2 separate regions of the Homo sapiens genome follow, and region 1 is linked to region 2. Evidence: fine-mapped expression QTL. Tissue or cell type: prefrontal cortex. Region 2 holds a variant in brackets; the other region holds the start of a gene. All regions are shown on one strand. Distances are from middle to middle.

What was found. PIP is the estimated chance that this variant, and not a neighbour inherited with it, causes the effect.
Region 1: ZNF707 starts here. The variant in region 2 is fine-mapped to the expression of ZNF707 in prefrontal cortex (ROSMAP, PIP 0.91).

What each region holds. Positions count from the first base shown.
Region 1 is chr8:143,683,273-143,686,024 of GRCh38, forward strand. ZNF707 (zinc finger protein 707) reads left to right here and starts at 1,207. Exons shown (of 6, transcript NM_001100598.2): 1 at 1,207-1,270.
Region 2 is chr8:143,478,422-143,481,173 of GRCh38, forward strand. All of the region lies in intron 4 of ZC3H3 (zinc finger CCCH-type containing 3), which reads right to left. Among named protein-coding and RNA genes, the nearest start is that of SNORD149, 26 kb to the right of the region's middle. RefSeq lists an enhancer at 662-1,162. The variant G/A (reference allele first, on the strand shown) is at 1,654.

The DNA of each region.
Region 1 (2,752 bases), 200 kb after region 2:
ACCATTACTCTTTGTTGCATTACTAATATAACCTAGGAATAACCGGCGGATATAGGGTCGGGTGCTGAAGGGACATGGTGAGAAGTGACCTAGAAGGCAAGAGGTGAGCCTTCTGTCACTCCCACATCAGGGCTGCTTGAGGGCTCCTTGGTCAAGCCCTAACGCCAGTGTCTGGGAAGTCACCCGTTGCTTAGTAGACTGCGAAAGGGAGTCTCCTTTCCTTGGAGGAGTCAGGGAACACTCTGCTCCACCAGCTTCTTGTGGGAGGTTGGATATTACCCAGGCCTGGCCGCAGTCATCCGGAGGCCTAAACCCCTCCCTGTGGTGCTTCAATGTTCACGCTCCTTGTCCACTTTCGTGTTCCTCCTGTACTCCTGGTTCCTCTTTGAAGTTCGTAGTCGATAGCGGTAGAAGAAATAGTGAAAGTCTTAAAGTCTTTGATTAATGCTAACTTATGCTGCCTTCTCTCTCTGCTTCCGCTACCTAAGAGGGAAGGGCCCCCTGTCCTGTAATCATGTGACTTGCTTCACCTTGTCAATCACTTAGAAGATTCACCCTCCTTACCCTGGCCCCTTGTCTTGTATGCAATAAATATCAGCGCGCCCAGCCGTTTGGGGCCACTACCGGTCTCTGCGTCTTGATGGTAGTGGTCGCCCGGGCCCAGCTGTTTTCTCTTTATCTCTTTGTCTTGTGTCTTTATTTATTACAATCTCTCATCTCCGCACACGGGGACAACACCCGCTTAGCCCCGCAGGGCTGGACCCTACACCCTTGATTGGCTGGAACTGGGTGACTGGCAGGAGAGCAAGTGACAGTCTGTTCACACCTCCAGTTAGGTTACAGTTCACTTTGTAGGATAAACCTTTAGGCCGACTTTAGGTTATGAGGGCCGGGATCGGTGGTTCACGCCTGTAACCCCAGCACTTTGGGAGGCCAAGTCAGGCGGATCACCTGAGGTCAGGAGTTCAAAACCAGCCTGACCAACATGATGAAACCCCCGTCTCTACTAAAATTACAAAAAAATCAGCCGGGCGTCGTGGCGCTTGGCTGTGACCGGGGCGGGGCCTGCCGGCTGCGGCGGAACCACAAGCGGTGCGGGGCGAGGCGGGCGGCCTGGACGGCCTGGAAGGCCAGCGCGCACCACCGAGACGTGGGCTCCTAGAGGGGCCGGAAGCTTTCGGATAACAACTTCCGCTCGGGAAGTTTGTAAAAGTCTGGGCTACCGGCGCGGCGTAGTGGATGCAGCATCCTAGTGGAGGACGCCCCTGTGGTGAGTGCGCCCGTGTCCCCCGCCGCCCCTCCGTCCCTGGGTCGTGGGCTGTCAAACCTTCTAATTCTGCGGCCGCCCCAGGGCTGTGAGACCCAGCGTCGCGGCTGCTGGGACAGACCGGGGAGGCTGCCCGTGCCCTCGGCTATTCGGGGGCTGTTCTTCAGCTTCTTCCGGCTCGGCCTCCTCTTCTCTCCTCGCTCCTTACACTTGCAGGTTTGTCAGGACCCGGTTGCGTATCCTCTTGAAGCTGGTTTCTTCCTGGCCGACCCCGTCCGCGATCGTGACCTTAGTTATCCCTCATAGACACTTTCCACACCTGTGTCTCCAGCCCTATCGCTCCGATGAGACCCGAGCGCTTAGACTTGATTCATAACACCCAAAGCTCCCCGGCCCCAGGCTGAGCTCCTGCAACCTCCACACCCCACCCTCTGGTCCTCCCAGGCATTCCACCGCGAAGGGGAGGAGGCAGAAACCCGAGATTCGCTTCTTCTCCTTTCCTGCCCACGCCCAGCCACACAGTCACTGGTGCGTTAGCTCCATAACTGAACCATTTGCCTCCTTGCCATTCCCACCCTGTAAGTCCCAATCCTGGCCGTCTTCCTCTCTCACCTGAACGCCTCCCTGTCTTCTCCCCACCCCCATCCTGTTTTGCTGCTTTCTCATTTGTTCATCACAGAGGATCTTTTATAAAATGTAGCTTAGCCAGGCAAGGTGGCTCCCGCCTGTAATCTCAGCTCTTGGGAGGCCGAGGCAGGTGGATCACTTGAGTCCAGGAGTTCTAGACCAGCTTGGTCAGCATGTTGAAACCTTGTCTCTACAAAAAATACAAAAATTAGCCGGGTGTGGTGGTGCACGCCTGTAATCCCAGTTACTCTGGGGAGGCTGAGGCAAGAGAATCGTTTGAACCCAAGAGGCAGAGGTTGCAGTGAGCAGAGATCGCGCCACTGCACTCCAGCCTGGGCGACAGAGCGAGACATCATCTTATTAAAAAAAAAAAAAAAAAAAAGGTAGCTTAGGCCGGATGCTGTGGCTGACGCCTGTAACCCCAGCACTTGGGGAGGCTGAGGCCAGAGGATCTCTTGAGGCCAGGAGTTTGAGATCAGTCTTGGCAACATAGTGAGACCCCGTTTCTGCAAAAAACTTAAAACAATTGCAGGGCATGTTGGCACATGCGCTTTTGGTCCCAGCTACTGGGGAGACTGAGGTGGGAGGATCACTTGAGCCCAGGAGGTCGAGGCTGCAGTGAGCTGTGATTGCACTACTGCATTCCAGCCTGGGTGACAGAGCAAGGACCTGCCTCAGAGAAAAAAAAATCCTGTGTTAATTTGCCTAGGGGAAAAAAAGTAGCTATGACAATATCCTTCTGTTCTCCCGTATTAAACTTTGTTGCATTACACATGAAACCACGGCTCAGGAGGCCTTGAGGAATCTGGCTTTAGCCCCTTTCCTGGCCTATCTCACGGTTCTCCCTGACTCTGCTTT
Region 2 (2,752 bases):
CCGCCCCACCCACCAGGGCCGCCCCTCAGCTCTGTTTCAGGACCTCGGCCTGGCTGGGCACTACAGCAGCCATGCCCCCGCTCCTTCTTATTTTTTTGTTTTTTTGAGATGGAGTTTTGCTCTTGTGACCCAGGCTAGAGTGCAATGGTGCGATCTCGGCTCACTGCAACCTCCGCCTCCCGGGTTCAAGAGGTTCTCCTGCCTCAGCCTCCAGAGTAGCTGGGATTACAGGCATGTGCCAACACGCCCGGCTAATTTTTGTATTTTTGGTAGAGATGGTGTTTCACCCCATTGGCCAAGCTGGTCTCGAACTCCTGACCTCAGGTGATCTGACGGCCTTGGCCTCCCAAAGTGCCGGGATTACAGGCATGAGCCACTGCGCCCAGCCGCCCCTGCTCATTCTCATGGATGAACATGAACAATTAGCTTGTCCCCTTCTCTTCCCTCCTAAAAAAAACACCTTACTGGAGTGTGAGAACACCCAGAGGACATTAGAGGATCTGGGCGGAATGGAGATGTGGCAGCCCCTGCTGAGCCGTCCCGGGATCTGCGCCCGCTCTTCATGCTTGGGAATGTTCCCAGCCCCCCACTGCCCACCATAGCCTGGGAGCCCAGGGCCTCCCGGGAATGGGGCAGGGCGCTTCCTGGTGCTCAGCACACCTAGCCCAAGAGCCTCATTCCGAGAAGCTGCATCCTGGGAAGATGCTGTGGCAGAACGTCGGGCCTGTGCAGGTTGGCGGGGGTGACGGAGAGCTGTCTAGGGTTGCCCTCACCCCTGCCCTCGCCCTGGCTGCCTGGCTGGCTTTGGAACCTACAGCAGGAGGGTGCTGGGAGGGCATGGGGCGAGGGCCTTGTAGCTTTTCACGGCCGTGGGTGTCACAGCACTCCAGTAAATTGTGACCCTAATGGAGAGGATGGCCTTTGGAAACGAACTGCATTGAGAAGGGGGATGAAATTAATGAGATAATAGCAGGGCCAAGGACCCGGAGCGCGCGTCTGCCCTCACGGAAGGCTCTGTAATTCCTTTTCCGCAACGGGAGCTGCAGATCTAAAGGCCTCTCCCATCCGTCCGGCAGGCCCACGCTGCCAGGAAATTTCATTAACGCTGGAAAATAGGAAAGGTATTAAGCGTGGATAATGAAGGCCAGGGAGGGAACAGTGCCTTAAGATAGTCTTCTTTCTCGCCTTTGTAATGGGAGGCATGAACTTTCCCTTCAAATCCATTTCTAATCCATTTGAAATACTACAGCAAATTATCTTTCCTTCAGCCCAAAAGCAGCCAGCCAATTTACTCCGAACAGAAGTGACAATGCCCCAGGATTTATCACCATAACCTTGACTACACCAGGGCGAGGCTGGGCCTCCCCTCTCCTCCCTGGGGGGGGACAAAGGCCAGGAGGGGGAGATAACATTTTAAATGAAAAGCAGCAGTAATGGGGAGAAAGACACACACACTACAAAAGCAGGTGTATGAAGAAGCTGTCTGTGCAGTACTGCCTTAGGAGTAGCTGGAAACTTGCAGGCCAGAGGCTGCCCGGGCTGGCGAGGGGCACCACAGGTGCCCAGAGGGCTGAGCCCAGGCCCTCCTGTCTCTGAAAGCCCCTGTCCTGCCTCAGCCTGGGCCCCTCGGACCTGCTGAGTGCTGCCAGCCTC[G/A]CTAGGCACAGGTAGCAACAGTGGGGGCCGGGCGGACCTCTGGCTCTCGACCCTCAGGGACTCCTGTCACCTGTCCCCAGGACTTCAGTGGTGCTGGGGGCCTGGGCAAGATGGGAGAGAGGCTCACTCTGAGGTCTTGGTTTTCCTGAAAGCCCAGGGGCAAACCTGGTGCATCCCCTGCCGGCATCCACAAGGCATGCCCACGCACAGCCTGCCAGCTGCCAGGCTCCCGGGCCTGCAAGCCCTGGCCTGGGCCACTGCTGCCAAGTGGCCCATGCAAGGACTCTGAGGACCAACCCTGGACACCCACACTCTACCCACTCCGAGGGCACTGCCCGTGGCAGGTCAGAGCAGCCCCCGCGCCATGTCATGTGGGCCGTGCAGGCTGAGAGGGGCCTCACCCCAGGCCACGTCATTGATCCTGGGCACAGATGCACACATACACGTGGCCCAGATCAGTGGCCTCGCAGTCAGGGCAGTGCATGCACAGCAAGCAGGCCCAGTGCACTGCCTGCCCCCAGGGTGACAGCCTCAGCACTTGCGCTCCCAGCAGCAGAAGCCCCAGCTCAGCAGAAACACATCTGACAAACCAATGCGGCTCCTCGGGTGAGTCCAGCCCTCTGAGCACCCGGGCCCTTTCAGGTCCTGCTCCCTGCCATGGGCACTGCCTGCGGTGTCTCCGTGCCATGCGACCCAGCTCTGAGACCAATCAGAGAATGCTGGGCCTGGTAGTCAGCGTGACTGGCACACTGGCATGGCAGGAAGGCTGGGGAAGGGGCCCGGTCTCTTGACTCAGGCAGAGGTGGTAAGGGGACTGGGGGAGGCCTCCTCCACCCTAGAGACCCGGGAAGCAGCCCAGCACCCAGGATGCCCCGGCGGGACACACACTGGTGGGACCCGAGGGTCCAGGCCACAGACAGGCAGCTTTTAAGCCCAAAAGCTGTATCTTCCGATTGCCCAGTCCCACAGCACCTTCAGACACATGCTGCCCAGGACACCCTCCCTGAGGCTCTGTGGCTTGTTCAACAGGGTCTTCCAAGGCCTTGGGTCATGTGGCCAGGGGTTCGAGGCCTAGGCCAGATTGCAGGCAGCCCTGGGA